Linked DNA regions of Homo sapiens: region 2 is linked to region 1. The links come from fine-mapping of genetic effects on gene expression. A gene starts in region 1. The other region holds a variant in brackets. All regions are shown on one strand. Distances are between the middles of the regions.

What was found. PIP is the estimated chance that this variant, and not a neighbour inherited with it, causes the effect.
Region 2: its variant is the best candidate, but not a certain one, in a credible set for the expression of ZNF106 in whole blood (INTERVAL, PIP 0.51).

Annotation. Positions count from the first base shown.
Region 1 is chr15:42,482,790-42,497,853 of GRCh38, forward strand. ZNF106 (zinc finger protein 106) reads right to left here and starts at 8,352. Exons shown (of 22, transcript NM_001366845.3): 1 at 8,191-8,352. SNAP23 (synaptosome associated protein 23) reads left to right here and starts at 12,845. Exons shown (of 8, transcript NM_003825.4): 1 at 12,845-12,924. RefSeq lists enhancers at 7,825-8,014, 8,065-8,114, 8,415-8,524, 12,518-13,061, 13,062-13,605.
Region 2 is chr15:42,293,306-42,301,305 of GRCh38, forward strand. GANC (glucosidase alpha, neutral C) reads left to right here. Exons shown (of 24, transcript NM_198141.3): 6 at 4,306-4,351. Among named protein-coding and RNA genes, the nearest start is that of TMEM87A, 24 kb to the left of the region's middle. The variant G/A (reference allele first, on the strand shown) is at 3,145.

The DNA.
Region 1 (15,064 bases):
AAGTGCTAGGATTACAGGCGTGAGCCACCGCGCCCGGCAAAATCCTCAGTTATTTCATCCTCAGCTGGGCTTCTTTGGAGTCTGCTCCACATATGCATAATTCAGCAGTCTGCCAAGGTTTGGGCAGAGTTTATTCACAGAGTCTGATGCTTCTCCTCTCTCTCTGCTTTCCAGGATTCTCCTCTCACTTCCCAACAGCTGTAGTTGCTTGAGCTTTATCTTCTGGTTCTTCAGGCCACAAAGACTAAAGTTTACTATTGGAATTTTAAGCACCCTACATGACATAGATCAGGGCCTGCCCTAAAGTTAGAAGCCATGAAAATGGGAAATTACTCCAAGTAGTCCCATTCTTGTGTTAACTCCCCGCTAGAATCTGCCTGGTTTTTTTGTAACTCTCCAGTAGATTTTACTGGTTTTATGTATTTCCATCCAGATGTAATAATAGTTGTTATCTGTGGGGGCATTGGCCAGGAGGAGCTTACTCAGCCTATGACCAGAACAGGACTCTCATGTTTGCACTTTTGAGAGCCACCAGCCTCTTCGAATGGCTCCAAGCAATGCTCAAGCGGGACAGACTGATCAAAGAAGACATATCCTCCATCATGCGATGGAGTAGGAGGCCCTAGGTTTAGTGACAAAGTCTGCTGGGACCTGGGTGACTCCTGAATAGCAGCTGTTCATGAGGTGGCTCGGCATTCCAGCCTACCTCAATTTTACGGTGCCTCCATCTAAACATACACATACATGGTTTGCTCAACCATACACTGAAAAAACTATTCTCATGCATGCTTATGTTTTATGCCTTTGTCCCTCACTATTAAAAGCCCTTCAAAGGCATCTAATTATGTAAGATATAAATCAAAATATTTAAAAGGTCTTACAAGGCCCGCTTGACACAACCCTTGCTAATGTGTATTACATAGGTTTGAGCTACTTTCTTGTTGATCTCTGTGATCAGACAAAATGACATTTTCAGTTCTTCCCACCTACCACACTCCTCCCACCTTAGGGCTTTTTCATATGCTGGTCCCTCTCCCTGGAAAGCTCTTACTCCTTTTCATCTAGTTAATTACTCATCCTTCAAATCTCAGTCCAAATGTCAGTTGCCTAGGAAAGCACTCCCTCATCTCCCAGACTAGGTCATACCCCTCACTGTGCACTGCTCTTCTGAAACCCTATCTCTTCTTTATAACACTTATCCCAATTGTGGCTATTTCTGAGGCACACTGTAGAGCAGCAATTCTCAATCACATCAGACCCAACTTTTTTCCTAAAACATATCATTGTGGAAATTTTCATTCATACATAAAAATAGAAGGCTTATTATAACAATCCCCAGTGTTCTGATCAGCCAGCTTCCCCAATTGTCACCATACAATTTTTTCTTTAAAGATATTTTGTACCCCCTTTTGTTGTAAATATTTTGTAATAACCTTCTTATCCTTCCTGAAATAAAATGCAGAGCTACTGTAACTTACTTACACATGTAAAACTTCAAATATCAATTAATGTGCTAACTATAATAAAAATGAAAAATTAAAGGAAAGTGAGTTATAAAGTAACATGTATATCAACATATAAATGCTCAGACATGACTATATTAGAAGAATAAAACTATAAATATGACTACTACAAAATCAGACTAATATAGACAGGCATGTGATATTGTTGATAAAAAATACCATGAATAGGATAGGCATGGCGGCTCACGCCTGTAATCCCAGTACTTTGGGAGGCTGAGGCAGTTCAAGACCAGCCTGGCCAACATAGTGAAATACCATCTCTACTAAACACAAAAATTAGCCAGGCGTGGTGATGCGTGCCCGTAGTCCCACATACTCAGGAAGCTTACGCACGAGAATTGCTTGAACCTGGGAGGCAGAGGTTGCAGTGAGCCAAGATCATGCCACTGTACTCCAGCCTGGGTGACAGAGTGAGACTCTGTCTCAAAACAAACACAAACAGCATTGCTGTCTGCAATATAATTTCCCAAAATAGTGACCAACTCAATAATCTTTCTGAACTAAAGAAAGCACAGTCCCTTGATTTACACATTAACTATGCTTCAGGCAAAAAATACTCTGTGTTGACCAGGCGCGGTAGCTCACGCCTGTAATCCCAGCACCTGGGAAGCGGAGGCGGGCGGATCGGTAGAGTCCAGGAGTTCAAGACCAGTCTGGCCAACATGGCAAAACCCCGTTTCTACAAAAAAAAAATTAGCTGGGCTTGCATGCCTGTAATCCCAGCTACTCAGGTGGCTGAGACACAAGAATCACTTGAACCCAGGAGGCAGAGGTTGCAGTGAGCCAAGACCATGCCACTGCACTCCAGCCTGGGGGGTCAGAGTGAGACCTTACCTCAGAAAAACAACAACAACAAAAAAAATACTGTATGTTTATGTTAAACAAATTTGGTTTGAGGCTCAGATAATTATAAACAGATTTTTCACCTACATGAACATCTTCTGGGACATTAGAAAGTGATGCAAGGTTTATGTGTTCTCACCACAAAAACTTATAAGTAATACATATGTTAATTAGTTTCATCTAGCTATTCCACAAGGTACAGCAGGTCCTCAAAAAATGCTGTTTCATTCAATATCATGCTGTTACAACATTAATGAGAAAAAATAAATTACTTCCAGCTGAGGCCACTGTCCATGAAGACTTCGTATGTTCTCCTTATTCCTTCATGGGTTTCTTCCAGGTCTCCAGTTTCCTCCCACACCCCGAAGTAAGTGCCTGATAGGTGAACAGGGTGTCTAAACAGTCCCAGTCTCAGTGAGTGTGGGTGTGTGTGTGTGAGTACACCCTGGGATGGAATGGCGTCCTGTCCAGGGTTGGTTTCTACCTTGTAACCTTAGCTGCTTAGGATAGGCTCTGACCACCTGAACACTGAACTGGAATAAAGACGTTGGAAAATAAAAGAGTGGATAAATAAAAATTATTATAAAATAAAAATGTGTGACGTATGCACAACAATAAACAATGTGGTACGAAAGCACCCACCTGTCATATTTGTTGATTTTTAACCACATGGTAGTAGCCAGTGCTCCTTAAAATTTTCACTTTGGAAATATTTATTCCTTGATTTAGCCCACCACCAGTGGGACTGTGGTCACCCATTGATTTGCCAAAAATTAGGCAAATATCCTGTTTTTATTACTCTTTCTTTTTTTTTTTTTTTTGAGACGGAGTCTCGCTCTGTCGCCAGGCTGGAGTGTGGTGGCATGATCTGAGCTCACTGCAACCTCCACCTCCCGGGTTCAATCGATTCTCCTGCCTCAGCCTCCCGAGTAGCTGGGACTACAGGCGCATGTACCACCACACCCAGCTAACTTTTGTATTTTTTAGTAGAGATAGAGTTTCACTATGTTGACCAGGATGGCTAGATCCCTTGACCTCGTGATCCGCCCACCTCAGCCTCCCAAAGTGCTGGGACTACAGGCGTGAGCCACCGCGCCCAGCCCTTCTTTTTTTTTTCTTCCAGAGACAGGGGTTTGTTCTATCACCTGGGGTAGAGTGCAGGGGCATGATCATAGCTCACTGCAGCTTTGAACTCCTGGGCTCAAGTGATCCTTCCACCTCAGCCTCCCAAGTAGCTGGGATTACAGGTATACGCTACTATACTTGGTCAATTTTTAAAATTTTTTGTAGAGACAGGGTCTCGCTTTGAAGCCCAGGCTGATCTTGAACTCCCAGTTTCAAGTGTCCTCCACCTTGGCCTCCCAAAGTGCTAGGATTACAGGTATGAGCCACCATGCCCAAGCTACTCTTTTTTACATCTACGTATAGCTCACATTTATTTCAATGTTTAGTATTAGAAGTGTTTGGGGTCTTCATTTAGAAGTTTGGTGATGTTCTTGTGACCAGAAATATGCCATAGGAACTTAACTCTTTTTTATATCAATTAACCTGTGGCAAAATTAGTTTTGTTATTATGCTGTTTTGCTTAGAGTCACAGTTTCCAAGATCCTATTGATGTTAAGTGAGGACTTGTTATATATATATATGTCAAGGCACCATATTGTACACAATAAATACATATATTTTATTGCCAATTAAAAAATTAATTTTTTTGGCCAGGCACAGTGGCTCACGCCTGTAATCCCAGCACTTTGGGAGGCTGAGGTGGGGGGATCACCAGGTCAGGCATTTGAGACCAGCCTGGCCAACATAGTGAAACCCCATCTCTACTAAAAATACAAAAAATTAGCCAGGCATGGTGGCAGGTGCCTGTAATCCCAGCTACTCGGGAGGCTGAGGCAGAAGAATCGCTTGAACCTGGGAGGCAGAGGTTGCAGTGAGCAGAGATCGTGCCATCGCACTCCAGCCTGGGCAACAAGAGTGAAACTCCATCTTTAAAAAAATAAAATAAAATAAAATAAAAAAGCTTATAGGGAAAATATGGCCTGGATGCAGTGGCAGCACACTTATAATCCTAGCACTTTGGGAGGCTGAGGCAACAGAATCACTTGAGGCCAGGAGTTCAACACCATTCTGGGTGACACAGTGAGACCTCCTCTTCACACACACAAAAAATTTATTAATTAGCTGGGCATGGTGGCACGCACCTGTAGTCCCAGCTACTAAGAAGGCTGAGGTGGGAAGAGGATTGCTGGGGCCAAGGAGTTTGAGGGTGTAGTGAGCCATGATCATGCCACTGTACTTCAGCCTAGGTGACTGAGCAAGACCCTGTCTCAAAAAAAAAAAAAAAAAAAAAAAAGCTTTTAGGAAAAACTATTACTACCCCCTCCTGTTTCCTAGCCACCGCCACTTCCAGTCAGCCACTCTTGTGAGTTTCTTATTTGTTTTCCAGAGATATTTTTCAATTTTTTTGCATGAAAATACAAAACATAAAATTTACCATCTTAACCATTTAAGTGTAGTTTAGTGGTATTAAATACATTCATAATGTTGTACAACCAACACTACCATCCGTCTCCATAACTACTTGCATCTTGCATAACTGAAACTTTATATCCATTAAACAATAACTCATTTCCCCCTCCCTCAACCCCTAGCAACCACCATTCTACTTTCTGTCTCTATGATTTTGACTATCCTCCACAGAGGATATTCTATGCATATATGGTTGTCCCTCGATATCCATGGGGGATTGGTTCCAGGATCCCCCTCAATACCAAAATCTGAGAATGTTAAAGACCCTTATATGAAATGGCACAGTATATGCATGTAACCTACACATACCTTCCGTATACTTTAAATCATCTCTAGATTACATGTAAGACCTAATACAATGCCTACACATAACTTCATTTATGTGGATGCAATGTAGTATGTACTCAGCACGTAGCAAATTCAAGTTTTGCTTTTCAGAAATTTGTGAATTTTTTTTCCCCAAATATTATCCATCCAAAGTTGGTAGAATCCATGGATGCAGAACCCATGGACGGATATGGAGGAACAATTGTATATGCAATACATAATATTTTTATAAAACCACAGTGGTTGCAAAATGCACACCCTCTTTTGCACCTTTTCTTTCTCACTATATGGGAGGTCACTCAATATTAGCACATATAGAGCTGGCTCATTCTTTCTAGCAAATTCATACATTTATTTAACCAATCCTTCACTGATGAAGACCTGGGAGCTTCTTGATAGTTTCTTTCAGATTAAAACATGCACAAACATGCACACACACACACACACTCGACTGTAGAGTTTCCACTAGTGATTTCACATGCTAGAGGTCCAAGTAGAGCATTCATATGTAACTTGTCTGCCCAGGTGCTCTTATTCATTGGGTACAGAAATTAATCCTAAACTCTCCACTAAGATACTCCCAATTACAAAACACACAATACATAGACTTCTCACTGAGCCATTCCTGGTCCCAGAACCAAGTCGTCTAGCATCTTCCATTCCTCTCAACTCTTGTAGAGCAGCCTTCAGACTACACGTGCACTAATCTAGATGTACAATAATCACTATTCATAGTCTTTCCTTTTTAAATATCTTCCTTTTAATCAAAACAATTGAGGCCGGGCACTGTGGCTCACACCTGTAATCCCAGCAATTTGGGAGGCTGAGGTGGGTGGATCACCTAAGGTCAGGAGTTCAAGACCAGCCCAGCCAACATGGTGAAACCCCGTCTCTATTAAAAATACAAAACGTTAGCCAGGCATGGTGGTGGGCACCTGTAATCCCAGCTACTCGGGAGGCTGAGGCAGGAGAATCACCTGAACCCAAGAAGCGGAGGTTGCAGTGAGCTGGGATTGCGCCACTGCACTCCAGCCTGGGCGACAAAGCAAGGCTCTCTCTAAAAAAAAAAAAAAACAACACACACACACACACACACACACAATAGGTTCTGAACTAGCCTGATCAGATTCGTTCACACCCTCTACCTCCTGCCAGGCCATTTTTTATTATTTTTTAATTTTTTTTTTTTGAGATGGAGTTTCGTTTTTGGAGTACAATGGCACAATCCTGGCTCACTGCAACCTCCGCCTCCCAGGTTCAAGCGATTCTCCTGCCTCAGCCTCCCAAGTAGCTGGAATTACAGGCATGTGCCATCATGCCCAGCTAATTTTGTATTTCTAGTAGAGACGGTGTTTCTCCATGTCGGTCAGCCTGGTCTCAAACTCCTGACCTCAGGTGATCCGCCCGCCTCGGCCTCCCAGAGTGCTGGGATTACAGGCGTGAGCCATCGCGCCTGGCCCCTTCCAGGCCATTTTAAAGTTCTCCTCGAAAACCATCTAGTATTTCTAATTAAAGGGCTCCTACTATCTTCTAGACTCAAGAGTTAACTCTAGGCATGGCGCGGTATTGGCAAATGTGTAGTAGATACTAAATAAATTCTAGTTGCATCTGAAAATTGTCTTTCATTATTTCATTCACGACCAAACTTGAGAACGGGGCTTAAAGCAAATTTTAAGATTTCCCATGCTATTTACAACAGTACTAAGCTCTTAATAAGCACTCAAAAGTTATCTGTGGGCCGGGCGTGGTGGCTCAAGCCTGTAATCCCAGCACTTTCAGAGGCCAAGGTGGGTGGATCACCTAAGGTCAGGAGTTGGAGACTAGCCTGGCCAACATGGTGAGACCTCGTCTCTACTAAAAATACAAAAATTAGCCGGGCGTGGTGGTGGTGCACGCCTGCAATCCCAGCTACTCGGGAGGCTGAGGCAGGAGAATCTCTTGAAACTGGAAGGCGGAGGTTGCAGTGAGCCAAGATCCCGCCACTGCACTCCAGCCTGGGCGAAAGAGCGAAACTCCGTCCTAAAAAAAATAATAATAATAAAAATAAATAAAAATACAAAAAATTAGCCAGGTATGGTGGTGGGTGCCTGTAATCCCAGCTACTGGGTAGGCTGAGGCAGGAGAATTGCTTGAATCCAGGAGGCGGAGGTTGCAGTGAGCTAAGATCGCGCCACTGCACCCCAGCCTGGCAACAAGAGCGAAACTTTGTCTCAAAAAAAAAAAAAGAAGTTATTTGTGCTTTGAATAAACTGGATATAAACCATTATGGTGGATACAGCACTTATTTGCTAGGTAAGAGAACTTCGCTTACCTAGGATGACAGTCTCAAGTTGCTAAAAGCCACGGATATCTCAAACTTCTCAATAAGATGCCTTAATCTTACTCTCAAAGATGATTACACAACAAATTGAAAGGGGAAGAGGATGTAAAGCATTTCCTCTCCACAATTATACACCGAGATTCGGACTAAATATTAAACGGACACAGTAAGCTGTTGTTACTATTTGTTATTAGTTGTTATTATCAAGACGCATCCCACAAGGAGAGAAACGAAAGGAGGAAAAAGAACGGAGGTTGTCAGTCGCGAGAGGTTGAAATGTGTCCCTGGCCTGAGACCTACGGGCTTTAAGGACCAGGGTCTTTGGACTCCCTGCCCAACTGGGGACGAAGGAGGTCAGTGGCTTCCCCTAAAGGTCAAGGCTTTGGAGCCACGTTTCCTTCTGGGGCTGGGAGCAGAGCTGGAACGCCCCCGCGAAAATCCGTACCCCGAAGCCAGCAGCACCGCCTGCCCATAAACCCGCGCCGGCTCTGGGAGAGTGGACCACCAGGTTGCCCCTGAGCCGCAGCCTGCAGGAGTAGAAACCCGGTGGTGTCTTGCAGCCCCACAACCTCCCTAAGGGGCAGACGACCAGGACCCTTGGGCTCCGATACGCTCAACGCAGGCCGGCCCGTCGATACTCACATTCACAGCCAACCCCTCTTACTCCATCAGGCCGCCGAGAGCCAGGCGAGGGAGCTCCCTGACGCCTCAGACGCCCCCTTCAGTTTTGGGTCCGGGAGCCTGCTCCGGACCCGCTCCCCGCCGGGCCCCGCCACAGCCGCCGCCAACGCGCAGGCGCACACCGAAGCCGTCACGCTCGCTTTTTTTTCCTTTGCCGTCCGCAGTTCTCAATAATCTAGCTTTATTTGAACACAAGAGAGTGAACAACGGACACACAGGAAGAGGTTTTTCTCAAAAAGAATGGAGGAAGAACAAAGGCAGGCCCGCTTGCGGGAGAGTCAGTACGCAGCGTTGGACGCTATGAACAGCCTCCCTGGTCCCTTTTTCATTCTCCTTGTTTCTCCTTGTTCTTTCCCGGCCTCCCTGTAGCTCCTACTCTCTTCCTTGGTGTCCCGCCATTTCCTTTAGTCAGTGGCAACTGTTCGGGCTACATTTTGAAAACACTCCTTCCTTGTAAAACTTTCTGAAGTTGAATGGAAGGTGCAAGAGCTTTAGAACAGCCAGACCTGAGTTTCAGATCTTGGACTAGCTACGAATAATTTGTGACTTTGGGTAAATTACAATTCTTCTTGGAACCTCAGGTTCTTGAGTTAAAATTAGGATAATGTTATCTCACAGGGTGTTGCTAGGATTAAATAACATAGGTCAAGTGTTTATCTATGAATGCTGCCTATCACAGAGCAGACATTCCATAATACTGACTTTATTCTTACTCATGCCTAAGGTATTTATAATATTTTTTAAGTAGAGACGGGGTTTCACCATGTTGCCCAGGCTGGTCTCAAACTCCTCGGCTCAAGTGATCTGCCTGCCTTGGCCTTCCAAAGTTCTGGGATTGCAGGTGTCAGCCACCGCGCCCAGCCTACATTTATTATTTATTTATTTAGTTAGTTAGTTAGTTAGTTATTTTGAGATGGAGTCTTGCTCTGTCGTTCAGGCTGTAGTGCAGAACCGCTCTCTTGGTTCACTGCAACCTCCACCTTCCGGGTTCAAGCGATAATCCTGCCTCAGCCTCCCAAGTAGCTGGAATTACAGACGTGCACTACCACGCCCAACTAATTTTTGTATTTTTAGTAGAGATGGGGTTTCGCCATATTGGCCAGGCAGGTCTCAAACTCCTGACTTCAAATGATCCGCCCACCTCGGCTTCCCTAAGTGCTGGTATTACAGGTGTGAGCCACCGCGCCCGGCCGCCTATATTTATTATTAAACTTAGCCCATACCCATTCCCTCAGAAACCTAATTTTAGTGACTAAGACTATCAGATAAATGAAATGACATTCAGGTTGATAATTATGTGGAGTGTCCCTCCTATATTATTGAGATTATAACATCTCTGTTTAACAAGACCTTCAACGTCTCAAATAAAAGTAAGCAGCGGTGGGGCACAGTGGCTCACGCCTGTAATCCCAGCACTTTGGGAGGACGAGGTGGGCAGATCATGAGGTCCAGAGATCGAGACCATCCTGGCCAACATGGTGAAACCCCTTCTCTACTAAAAACACAAAAATTAGCTGGGCGTGGTGGTGCGTGCCTGTAGTCCCAGCTACTCGGAAGGCTGAGGAAGGAGAATCGCTTGAACCCGGGAGTCGGAGGTTGCAGTGAGCCGAGACCTCGCCCCTGCACTCCAGCCTAGCGACAGAGCGAGACTGCGTCTCAAAAAAAAAAAAAAAAAAAAAAAGAGAGAGAAAAAAGAAAGGAAGCGGCTATATTAACCTCTTCTATGTAAATCCAGATTTGTTCTAGAGGTTTAGGAAACTTCCAATTCCGTGTTTGTGACATCACAAGTCCTTGAAACACTCAAGGGTTGTGGTACGCTGCTCATTCTATTCTCCTTCAAAGGCATGCAATGGAGGAACTATTTTACCCTATAAACTCTGGGCCATCATTCAGGGAAAAGCCTGTAGAAGACCACAGTCAGATATTGGTGAGTGCCAAGGTAACGCTAGATTATGGTTTCTCAACTTTGGGATTACTGACATTTTGGAACATATACTTTTTTGTCAGGGGTATCCTGTGCATTATAAGATGTTTAGCAGCAGACTGGGAGCAGTGGCTCACACATGTAATCCTATAACTTTGGGAGGTCAAGGGAGGCAGATCGCTTGAGTCCAGGAGTTTGAGACCAGCCTGGGTGACATGGTGAAACCGTGTCTCTACAAAAAATGCAGAAATTAGCCGGCAGTGGTGGTGCACACCTGTAGTCCCAGCTACTCAGGAGGCTGAGGTGGGAGGATTTGAGCTGCAAAGGTAGAGGTTGCAGTGAGCTGACATCACACCATTGCACTCCAGCCTGAGCAACAGAGCAAGACCTTCTCTCTCTCTCTCTCTCTCTCTATATATATATACATATATGTGTGTGCGTGTGTGTGTATGTATGTTTAGCAGCACTGTTGGACACGATGCTAGTAGTACCCACCCCCGTTTCCCTGTCATCACAATAAAGCATCTCCAGACATTGCCAAATATCCCCCGGAGGACAAAATCGTCCCTGGTTGAGAACCACGGAATTATATCAATGACCATCACAACCCTAAATGAACTAATGAACTCAACCATACATTTTCTCCACCTCTGCCCTCAACAAGTGACTGCTGCTTGAGAAATTTACACAGGAGGGCAGAAAATGGTGAGTTCATTTTTGCCCATATTAAAAAGGCCCTCAATATTGCTTACCAGTCCTACAACATTCTTCTGTCAACTTGTTGTATTACTTTCTACAATATTCCAAATCTTCTCAGCTTTCCTTTAAACTCCCAATACCACCTCCTTTTCTATCAGAAGATGACCCCATCTTCAACTTCACAGAGAAAACAAGTCAGCAAATGAGAACTTTAACTTCCTGTTACTAAACATACAGAAACATACTTCCTCTCATAATTGGGGAAATATCTCCTCTCTCTCTCTTTCTCCCTCCCTGCCCTCTTCCAAAACCATTATTCTTACCAGTGTTTCGAACTGCCTCTAAACTGCCTCTATTCTTACCCTTTCAAGATCTTTGCCTACTGACTATCCCTTCTCTTCCTTTATTCAACCATTTTTTTCTCAGTTGAATCTTCCCTACCATGCTCAAGTTTCTCCTGTCTTAATTCTAACAAAAATCAAAAAAACAAAAACAAAAAATCTTGATCCTTCATCATTCTCCCTCCTTCCTCCCTGTCAAGGCCAAACTTTCCAAAAGCATTCTACAACTTGTCCCCATCTCTACATCTCCCCCACCTCCAAACTACTAAGTTGTTTTTTTCAACCCCAGCATTCCAACAAACAGCTTTCACTGAGATAATCAGTGACCTCTGTGTTATGAAATTAAAAAAAACATTTCTCAGGCTTCATCTTCCTTGATCCCTTAGGAATAGACTACTTACTCCTTGAAGCACTTTTTTTTTTTTTTTTTGAGATGGAGTCTGGCACTGTCGCCAGTGATAGACATTATGATAGTAATGTAGCTGGGATTACAGACACCCGCCACCACACCCAGCTATTTTTTCTTTCTTTTTTTTTTTTTTTTGTAGGGGGGACGGAATTTCACTCTCGTTGCCCAGCCTGGAGTGCAATGGCATGATCTTGGCCCACTGCAACCTCCGCCTCCCAGGTTCAAGCGATTCTCCTGCCTCAGCCTCCCGACTAGCTGGGATTACAGGCGCCTGCCACCATGCCCGGCTAATTTTTTGTATTTTTAGTAGAGATGGGGTTTCTCTATGTTGGCCAGGCTGGTCTGGAACTCCTGACCTCGTGATCTGCCCGCTTCAGCCTCCCAAAGTGCTGGGATTGATTACAGGCGTGAGCCACTGTGCCTGGTGAAGCACTTTCTTTTCTTGATTTCCAGCAGTTTATTTTATTCTTAGAGGTGCATGGAGGGGTTCCTGCAGCAAATAGTTTACAATAATCCTCCATCTGCTTAAAACTCTTCAATAGCTTTCAGTGCCCCTAGTACAAAGTGGTCTAAAATTCCAAGGCCTTCCAAGATCTAGCGATTGTTGGCCTTCTAAAGCTTTCTTTCCTCTACACTCGGGGATGTACGATTAGCACTAAGCCTCTAACAAGGATGAACTACTAGAAATTTCCAGAAGGCGTTATGCTGTTCTCGACATAAGCTGTTCCCCAGAGCCTGGAAAACTCTAGCTCTTTCTCTGCCGGATTTCCGGGGGAACTCCTACTTATCCTTCATGACTCAAGTCACTTCCTCCGGGAACCCTTCCAGACACCCCTAAGAATAAAACGCTTTGTTCATTATCAGCCAAAGGCGCCTCAAATTTTCTATGTGCTATGCACTGTATTCTATCCACTATAATTTGTTTACATATCTATATCTTAGTCTAGACATATTGAAAGGCGATGAAGAGCAGGGAAAGCACTGTATTCGCTTTCTTTTCTTCAGCGTTCATCCAGCACAGTGCCTGGCATACGGTTTGCCCTCAGTAAATGTTTATTGCATGAACACCTCCCAGCTTCGGGCAGGACTGAAATCTATCCGGTTAACTAGTGAATTCCCAGACTCTCCGTCTGCGTGGCAGGGACATTTAAACCCCCAGCACCGTGATTGGCTCCAGCTGCAGGGGTGTGTCTGTGTCCGCGGCGAACGGGAAGTGAGCAGGCGCGCGGGCTCGGCGCGCGCAGGCGCGACTAGGGTGCAGCGCCAGGTCCGGTGTTGGGGTGTCCGAGTTGCCGCCGGAGAGGAGTGGCCTCGCCCGCTTGGTGAGTCTCCAGGAGTGGGACGGAGGGAGCTGGCCGGGATGAAGTCTGAGACTATGTCCTGAGAAGAAAGAGTGTATCGTATTGGTTGAAAAGTTGGTGGGGTCGGGCTTAAGCGGAGGAGGGGGCTCTCTGGCCCTTACTCGGCAGATGGGCCCGGAGAGAGGACGGGAGGTGCCGGGAGAACATCGAGGGACCAGTGGAGGAAGGGTAGCTGGATGGTAATTCTCTGGACCCTTCCTCGAAATTAAACAGAGATCACTTTCCGCCCCTCACCCTTACTGTGTTGCTGTAGTTGACATTAATAGACTGCCTGTATGGTGACCACAGTGATCAGATAGCTCTGAGATAATGGCTTGAGGAAGGACTCTGAGGTTCCTGGTATTGGATAGCCCTTGCTCTCTAGAAAGGTTCAGCCTTACCTCGCGGCATTACTGCACAAATTAGAGGATCAGGAAAAGAATGAATTTCACAATTCGGGATTGGAGTGGTGGGGGGAAAAAGTACTGTAAAGTGTAGTTTCATCTCGTCCTTTTTTTCTTCTTTAATCAGTCACCACAATGTTAGGAAAGGCAGTTGATGGTAGGAGGAAACGTAAAGACATAAAAGTGGGAGAGGAAAAAAAAGTCAAGAAGGGAGTATCATTTTGCCTTTTGCTATTTGTCATCTCCTGGAATGGGGTCTGTATTAGTGCGTTCTCACACTGCTATAAAGAAGTACCCAAGGCCGGGCTTGGTGGCTAACGCCTGTAATCCCAGCACTTTGGGAGGTCGAGGAGAGAGGATCATATGAGATCAGGAGTTCGAGACCAGCCTGGCCAACATGATGAAATCCCATCTCTACTAAAAATACAAAAATTAGCCAGGCGTGGTGGTATATGCTTGTAATCCCAGCTACTCCGGAGGCTGAGGCAGGAGAATCACTTGAACCTGGGAAACAGAGGTTGCAGTGAACCGAGATCGTGCCACTGAGCTTCAGCCTGGGAGACAGAGTCAGGCTCCAACTCAAAAAAAAACAAAAAGCAAAAGAAATACTCGAGACTGGGTAATTTATAAAGGAAGGAAGTTTAATTGACTCTCAGTTCTGCATGGCTGGGGAGGCCTCAGGAAACTTATAATCATGGTGGAAAGCAAAGGAGAAGCCAAGCACCTTCTTCACAGGATGGCAGGAGAGAGACAGTGAAGGGGAAAAAGCCCCTTATAAAACCAGTATCATGAGAACAGCATGGGGGAAACCACCCCCATAATCCAATCACCTCTCACCAGATTCGAGATGAGATTATGAATAGCCAAACTGTATCATTCTGCCCCTGGCCCCTTTCTTTCTTTCTTTCTTTTTTTTTTTTTTTGAGATGGAGTCTCACACTCTGTCACCCAGGCTGGAGTGCAGTGGCGCGATCTTGGCTTACTACAACCTCCAACACTTCAAGCGATTCTCCTCCCTCACACTCCTGAGTAGCTGAGACTACAAATGTGTGCCACCAAACCTGGCTAATTTTTTTTTTTTTTTTTTTTTTGAGATGGGGTCTTGCTCTGTCGCTCAGGCTGGAGTGCAGTGGCGCGATCTTGGCTCACTGCGACCTCCGCCTCCCAGGGTCAAGCAATTCTTCTGCCTCAACGTCCCAAGTAGCTGGGATTACAGGCACCTGCCACCAGGCCTGGCTAATTTTTGTATTTTTAGTAGAGATGGGGTTTTGCCATGTTGGCCAGGCTGGTCTCAAACTCCTGACCTCAGGTTATCCACCGGCCTCCGCCTCCCAAAGTGCTGGGATTACAGGCGTGAGCCACCGCGCCTGGCTAATTTTTGCATTTTTTAGTAGAGACGGGGTTTCACTCTATTGGCCAGGCTGGTCTCAAACGCCTGACCTCATGATCCACCCACCTCATCTTCCCAAGGTGCTGGGATTACAGGCATGAGCCACCACGCCCAGATTCCCTGGCCCCTTTCAAATCTCATGTCCTCACAGTTCAAAACACAATCATGCCTTCCCAACAGGCCTCCAAAATCTTAACTCATTCCAGTATTAACCCAAAAGTCCAAGTCCAAAGTCTCATCTGAGACAAGGCAAGTCCCTTTTGCCTAGGAGCCTGTAAAATCAAAAGCAAGTTAGTTACTTCTAAAGATGCTATGGGGGAATAGGCAT
Region 2 (8,000 bases), 190 kb before region 1:
CCATCTGCTTGATCAAAGCTGTTTATGTGGGGTGCTCACATGAATTAGGAGGTGGTGGTAAGGAGGAGATTCTTATTCCATTCTTACGAACACTGTTTTTAAATCTTTTAGTCTATAGTTCTTTCTATTTTTATCATGATAATAAACGTATTATATGATCTGCAGAAAGCATTCAACATTCATTATTCCAACATAGTCATTTTTCTGAGTTTCAACTCATTTCTGTTTTAAAATTTTGATACTAAAAATATCTCATTTTCTCATCTCAGAACTAATACTTGTTCATCATAGGCAGATTAGAAAATATTGAAAAGAAGAAAATTTAAAATCCCCATAATCTCTCCACCTACTCTCTTAGTGCCTTATGAATAGTCAAGTACTTGTTTAACTGAAAAATACTAATAATAGCAGAACAAATATCTGTGTACCCACTACTCATGTTCTTTATATGTAAAGCCTTTTTTCTAGCCAGGCACAGTGGCTCACACCTGTAATCATAACACTTTTGCCGAGGTGGCAAATCAGTTGAGCCCAGGAATTTGAAGCCAGCCTGGGCAACATGGTGAAACCCTGTCCTACAAAAAAATACAAAAAAATTAGCTGAGTTTAATAGCACATGCCTGTAGTCCCAGTTACTTGGGAGGCTGAGGTAGGAGGATCACTTGAGCCCAGGAGGTCAAGACTGCAGTGAGCTGCGACTGTGGCACTGCACTCCAGCCTGGGCAACAGAGCGAGATTCTGTCTCAAAACAAACAAACAAAAAACGCTTTTTTTTCTTTTGTAAACCCCGATGATTTTGTTCTGTTTTCTTTTAAACATTGTTTTCTTTCCTATCTAAGTTGATCCTTTTACTTACTTATGTAGAAGAGGCACATGGTACAAAGGAGTATATATTAATACACATTTCTATGTAATAATAGTAAAGAATCTCCTTCCCCCTGTGTCCTCTAGCTGCCCACTTTCCATCGTTGAAAGTAATGTGTTCTGGTCGGGTGTGGTGGCTCATGCCTGTAACCCCAGCACTTTGGGAGGCCGAGGCAGGTGGATCACCTGAGGTCAGGAGTTCGAGACCAGCCTGGCCAACATGGTGAAACCCTGTCTCTAGTAAAAATACAAAAATTTAGCCAGGTATAGTGGCACATGCCTGTAGTCCCAGCTACTCAAGAGGCTGAGGCAGAAGAATCTCTTGAACCCAGGAGGTGGAGGTTGCAGTGAGCTGAGATCATACCATTGCACTCCAGCCTGGGCAGCAGAGCAAGACTCTGTCTCAAAAAAAAAAAAAAAAAAAGTAATGTGTTTCCAGTTTTTTGTGTATCCTTTCAGAAACAATTTATGTATACACATTTTATATATATTCTTTGACTTTTCCTTTCCTGACACAAATGGCGCCACCTTTACACATTATTCTACACCTTGCTTTTTTCTGTTAACAATGTGATAATTCTTAATTTCTTTAAAGCAGCTACATAATTTCTGTTGTATGGCTTTACCATGATTCACTGAGTAAATTCTCTATTGAGGGATTTAAAGTTGTTTCTAATCTTGTTTTACAACTAGTTAGTTTACTAATAACCTTGAATATGTGTCATTGTGCATATATACAAGTATATTTATAGTATAGAGTCATAAAAGGATAGTTGTTGATCAGATGGTTTGTGCATTTGTAGTTTTTTTTTTTTTTTTTGAGATGGAGTCTCGCTCTGTCACCCAGGCTGGAGTGCAGTGGCATGATCTTGGCTCACTGCAAGCTCTGCCTCCTGGGTTCATGCCATTCTCCCACCTTAGCCTCCCGAGTAGCTGGGACTACAGCGCCCACCACCATGCCCGGCTAATTTTGTTTTTGTATTTTTAGTAGAGATGGGATTTCACTGTGTTAGTCAGGATGATCTCGATCTCCTGAACTCGTGATCCGCCCGCCTCAGCCTCCCAAAGTGCTGCGATTGCAGGCATGAGCGACCACGCCCCGCCTGTAGTTTTCATAGGTATTGCCAAATTGCCTTCCATAGAGGTTGTACTGGTAGCTATAGTTCCATGATTTACATTTATATTTATAATTATATTTGTGTTAGGAAAATCAGATGATCTAACTGGAAAAAATTTTAAGTTAGATTTTAACCTCATAACATTAACAAAAATCAATTGCAGATGAATAAAAATTAAACATAAAAAGACATAAAAATAGAAGAAAATATAAAACAATATTTCTGTAATTGTGAGAGTGTGACATAAACTGAAGAGCCATAAGGAAAAGATTGATGGATTTGATTACTTACACATTTTAAGCTTTGATTCTACTCAGAAAGCAACACAAGAAGAAAAAAAGCTTTATTATAGACACACACACACACACACACACACACACACACACACACACACACACACAGCGTGAACAAAATTAAAAGTCAAGGACTTCCAGTTTCCCGTCTGGCATGTAAGGAGCTTAGAAGTCACTACTCCATCCTAACAATGACTAAAAAGCTCAACAAATCAGTTTTTGCCTTATATAGTTTGATGCTCTGTTAGACTCATACACGCATTAAAGATTGTTACGTTGAGCTGGGCACAATGGCTCATGGCTATAATACTAGCACTTTGGGAGGCTGAGGCAGGCAGATCATCTGAGGTCAGGAGTTTGAGACCAGCCTGGCCAACATGCTGAAACCCTGTCTCTACTAAAAATACAAAAAAATTAGCTAGGCATGGTGGCATGTGCCTGTCGTTCCATCTACTTGGGAGGTTGAGGTGGGAGAATCACTTGAACCTGGGAGGTGGAGGTTTCAGTGAGCCGAGATCATACCATTGCTCCAGGCGGGGCGACAAGAGCAAAACTCTGTCTCAAAAAAAAAAAAAAAAAAGATTGTTATGTCTGCTTAGAGTATTGATCCCTTTATCATTGTGTAATATCCCTTTTTATCCCCCCAAATTTTCCTTGCTTTGAAATCTCTTCTGTCTGAAATTAATATATCTACTCTTACTCTCTTTTGATTGGTGTTAGCATAGTATATCTTACCTTCAGAGGTAACCAGTTTACTAAATTTTGTGTTAATCACTTCCTTGGGTTTGATTTGGTTTGGTTTAGTTTAGTTTTGTATTGTTTTAAGACGGAATTTCACTCTTGTTGCCCAGGCTGGAGTGCAGTGGTGC[G/A]ATCTCAGCTCACTGCAACCTCCGCCTCCCAATTGCAGGTTCAAGCAATTCTCCTGCCTCAGCCTCCCAAGTAGCTGTGATTACAGGTGCCCACCACCACGTCCAGCTAATTTTTGTATTTTTAGTAGAGACAGGGTTTCACCATGTTGGCCAGGCTGGTCTCGAGCTCCTGACCTCAGGTAATCTACCCGCATTGGCCTCCCAAAGTGCCCATATTACAGGTGTGAGCTGCCGCACCCAGACTCCTTGGGGTTTTTAATTGGATTCCCACATATGTATGAATTCCCAAACAACATATTATTTGGATTCGTCTTTTCTAAAAAAACTTTTATGTAATAAAAGTATGCTGTATATATTCTTTTGTAATGTATTTTTCACTCAAATATTTTTTTTCTTTTTCCTTTTTTTTTTTTTTTGGAAGATATGGTCTCACTATGTTGCCCATTAAATGTATAAAAGTTAGCCTACATCATTCATGCTCTTAGAAATACAAACTGAAATGCATTTATTTTTTCTACAATTTTAGATTGGCAAAAACTGAAAGATTGATAAAGTCCAGCAATGTTAAGAATGTGGGGAACTGAGCACTGAAATACAACTATGGGTGGAAGAATAAATTGTCACAATCATTCTGAAAGACTGTACATTATAGTGCTGTGTTCTGGGAGTGAGGAGAGTTACACCGAGTGTAGGGAGCTATGTTCTACCTTGCTTACTTAGATTTTGTTGAAATATTATGAGCATGTTTAACATTTATAATAAAAAATGATAAAAGTATTTTTTAAAGAGTTAACAAAATTAAAATACTTCTACATTAAGAAATGAAGCTATTAGATTAATGTTCATCATTACTGTCCAATTTTATAAACTCATTTTTAAATTGTTTTTTATTGTTTAAAGATGAGATCTCACTATGTTACCCAGGCTGACATCGAACTCCTGGGCTCAAGTGACCCTCTAGCCTCAGCCTCCCAAGTAGCTGGGATTACAGGCAGGCACCACTGCACCTGGGTTCATTTTTATTTTTATAATGATGTTATATTTAATACATTAAAGGATATAACTGAGGTCTCAAAAGTTGGAAATGAAAAATCTTTATCATTGAACAAAATTCTGTCAGTCTTGCCATTGAGTGAAACAACTTTATTTACGTTAAAACAGAGCTGCTAAAGAAAATGAGGAGGAGACATCAGTGGACACCTCTCAGGTAATCTAGATTGATCCATTTATTGTTATCTTTTTCACCATCATCATCATGATAGGGCATATAAGGAATTCTCTTTCTTCCTTCTACAGAAGGGTGCTTGTTAAATGATCGACTGCATATAAATAGGACCACTTGTTTCTTCGGCTCACCTTGTCATCTCGTTGATTCATTCATTCATTTATTCATTCATTCATTCATTCATTCATAAAAACAGATGCTTCCTGAGTGCCTACTTTTTGCCAGGCATTATTGCTAGGCAAGGAGAATCAGCCTTGAATAAAACAAATCCCAAACATGTTCTCATGGAAATTAGAATCTATTGGGAAAGACAGACATTGGGTAAGTAATTACAAGCATGAGGAGTGTTACAAAATGGTGCTGTAGGAGAATACAAGGGACCTGGCCAAGATGAGGGTCAGGAAAGACCTTCTGAGGGAAATAATGTTAAAGCCGAAACTGATGTCTACACAAGTCAAAAAGTTGTATATACACAAGTCAAAAAGTTGGGAAAAGAATGTTCCAGGTAGAGGGAACTGCATATTCAAAGATGTGGAGGTAGGATGGAGCATATTCCATTTGAAGAAATGGAATATGTATGCAATATATATTTATTTCATCTGGAGAAAGGAAAGCAAAGGGGAGGGTGGTATGTAACGAGGCTAGAAAGACACGCAGGGCAGTGCTGTGGAAAGATTTGTAATAATTATTTTATCTAACAATTATTTGTTAAGTACCTCCTATATCCCAGGCACTGTTCATGGAATTGGTGAGACATCATTGAAAAATATAAGTCCCCCATTTATCATGCAGCTTACCTTCTTCCAAGCCATGTTAACCTTTCTGAGTTTCTCCTAAGAGCAAAGGAAAACTCTGGAACGGTTCTAAGTAGCAGAGATGCATGGTCTTATTTCTATTTTTAAAAGATTATTTTGTTGAATTGTGAAGAATGGACACTCCAGAAATCTTCTCTCTCTTCATCCCCAATCACATGTATCTTCAAAAGAGCACTTTTCACAATATTGATTCTTCCTATCCATGAGGATGGAATGTTTTATCATTTGTGTTCTCGCTTATTTCCTTGAGCCGTGGTTTGTAGTTCTCCTTGAAGAGGCCCTTCACATCCCTTGTTAGCTGTATTCCTAGGTATTTTATTCCCTTTGTAGCAATTGTGAATGGGAGTTCATTCATGATTTGGCTCTCTGATTGTCTAGTGTGGATGTAAAGGCATGCTTGTGATTTTTGCACATTGATTTTGTATCCTCAGACTTTGCTGAAGTTGCTTATCAGTTTAAGGATTTTTTTGGGGCTGAGATGATGGGGTTTTCTAAATATAAAATCATGTCGTCTACAAACAGAGACAATTTGACTTCCTCTCTTCCTATTTGAATACTCTTTATTTCTTCCTCTTGCCTGATTGCCTTGGCCAGATCTTCCAATTACTATGTTGAATAGGAGTGGTGAGAGAGGACATCCTTGTCTTGTGCCAGTTTTCAAAGGGAATGCTTCTAGCTTTTGCCCATTCAGTGTGATATTGGCTGTGGGTTCGTCATAAGTAGCTCTTATTATTTTGAGATATGTTCCATCAATATGTAGTTTATTGAGAGTTTTTAACATGAAGGATGTTGAATTTTATCAAAGGCCTTTCCCGCATCTATTGAGATAATCATGTGGTTTTTGTCTTTGGTTCTGTTTATGTGATGGATTACGTTTATTGATTTGCATATGTTGAACCGGCCTTGCCCCAGAGATGAAGCTGACTTGATCGTGGTGGATAAATTTTTTGATGTGCTGCTGAATTCGGTTTGCCAGTATTTTATTGAGGATTTTCACATTGATGTTTATCAGGGATATTGGCCTGAAGTTTTCTTACTGCCCAAAATAATTTATAGATTCAATGCTATTCCCATCAAACTACCATTGACATTCTTCACAGAATTAGAAACAACTACCTTAAATTTCATATGGAATCAAAGAAGATCCCGTATAGCCAAGACAATCCTAAGCAAAAAGAACAGATCTGGAGGCATCACATTACCTGACTTCAAGCTATACTACAAGGCTACAGTAACCAAAACAGCATGGTGCTGGTACCAAAACAGACATATAGACCAGTGGAACAGAACAGAGACCTCAGAAATAACCAAATAACACCACACATCTACAACCATCTGATCTTCGAGAAACCTGACAAAAACAAGCAATGTGGAAAGGATCTCCTATTCAATAAATGGTGCTGAGAGAACTGGCTAGCCATATGCAGAAAACTGAAACTGGATCCCTTCCATATGCCTTATACAAAAATTAACTCAAGATGAATTAAAGACTTAAATGTAAAACCCAAAACCATAAAAACCCTAGAAGAAAACCTAGACAATACCATTCAGGACATAGGCGTGGGCAAAGACTTCGTGATGAAAGCGCCAAAAGCAAATGCAATAAAAACCAAAATTGACAGATGGGATCTAATTAAACTAAAGAGCTTCTGCACAGCAACAGAAACGATCATCAGAGTAAACAGGCAACCTACAGAATGGGTGAAAATTTTTGCAATCTACCCTAAGTGCTAATATCCAGAATTTACAAGGAACCTAAGCAAATTTACAATAAAAAAACAACCCCATCAAAACATAGGCAAAGGATATGAACAGACACTTCTCAAAAGAAGACATTTATGTGGCCAACAAACATGAAAAAAAGCTCAACATCACTGATCATCAGAGAAATGCAAATCAAAACCACAATGAGATACCATCTCACACCAGTCAGAATGATGATTATTAAAAAGTCAAAAAACAATAGATGCTGGCGAGGCTTTGGAGAAATAGGAATGCTTTTACACTCTTGGTGGAAATGTAAATTAGTCCATTGTGGAAGATGGTATAGTGAGTCCTCAAGGGTCTAGAACCAGAAATACCATTTGGCCCAGCAGTCCCATTACTTGGTATATACCCAAAGGAATATAAATCATTCTACTATAAAGACACATGCACATGTATGTTTATTGCAGCACTATTTACAATAGCAAAGACATGAAACCAACCCAAGTGCCCATCAGTGATAGACTGGATAAAGAAAATATGGGACTGGGTGTGTGGCTCATGCCTGTAATCCCAGCACTTTAGGGGGCTGAGGCAGGTGGATCACCTGAGGTTGGGAGTTCAAGACCTGCCTGACCAACATGGAGAAACCCTGTCTGTACTAAAAATACAAAATTAGCTGGGCGTGGTAGTGCATGCCTGTAATCCCAGCTACTAGGGAGGCTGAAGCAGGAGAATCACATGAACCTGGGAGGTGGAGGTTGCAGTGAGCCAAGATGATGCCATTGCACTCCAGCCTGGGCAACAAGAGTGAAACTCCATCTCAAAAAAAAAAAAAGAAAGAAAGAAAGAAAATGTGGTATGCTGTGGCTGGCAAGATGGCTGAATAGGAACAGCTCCGGCCTGCAGCTGCCAGCAAGATCAACACAGAAGGCAGGTGATTTCTGAATTTCCAACTGAAGTGCCCTGACTCATCTCATTGGGACTGGTTAGAGAGTGGGTGCAGCCCATGGAGGGCGAGCCGAAGCAGGGTGGGGCATTGCCTCACCCGGGAAGCACAAGGGATCAGGGAACTCCCTCCCTTAGCCAAAGGAAACCATGAGAGACTGTGC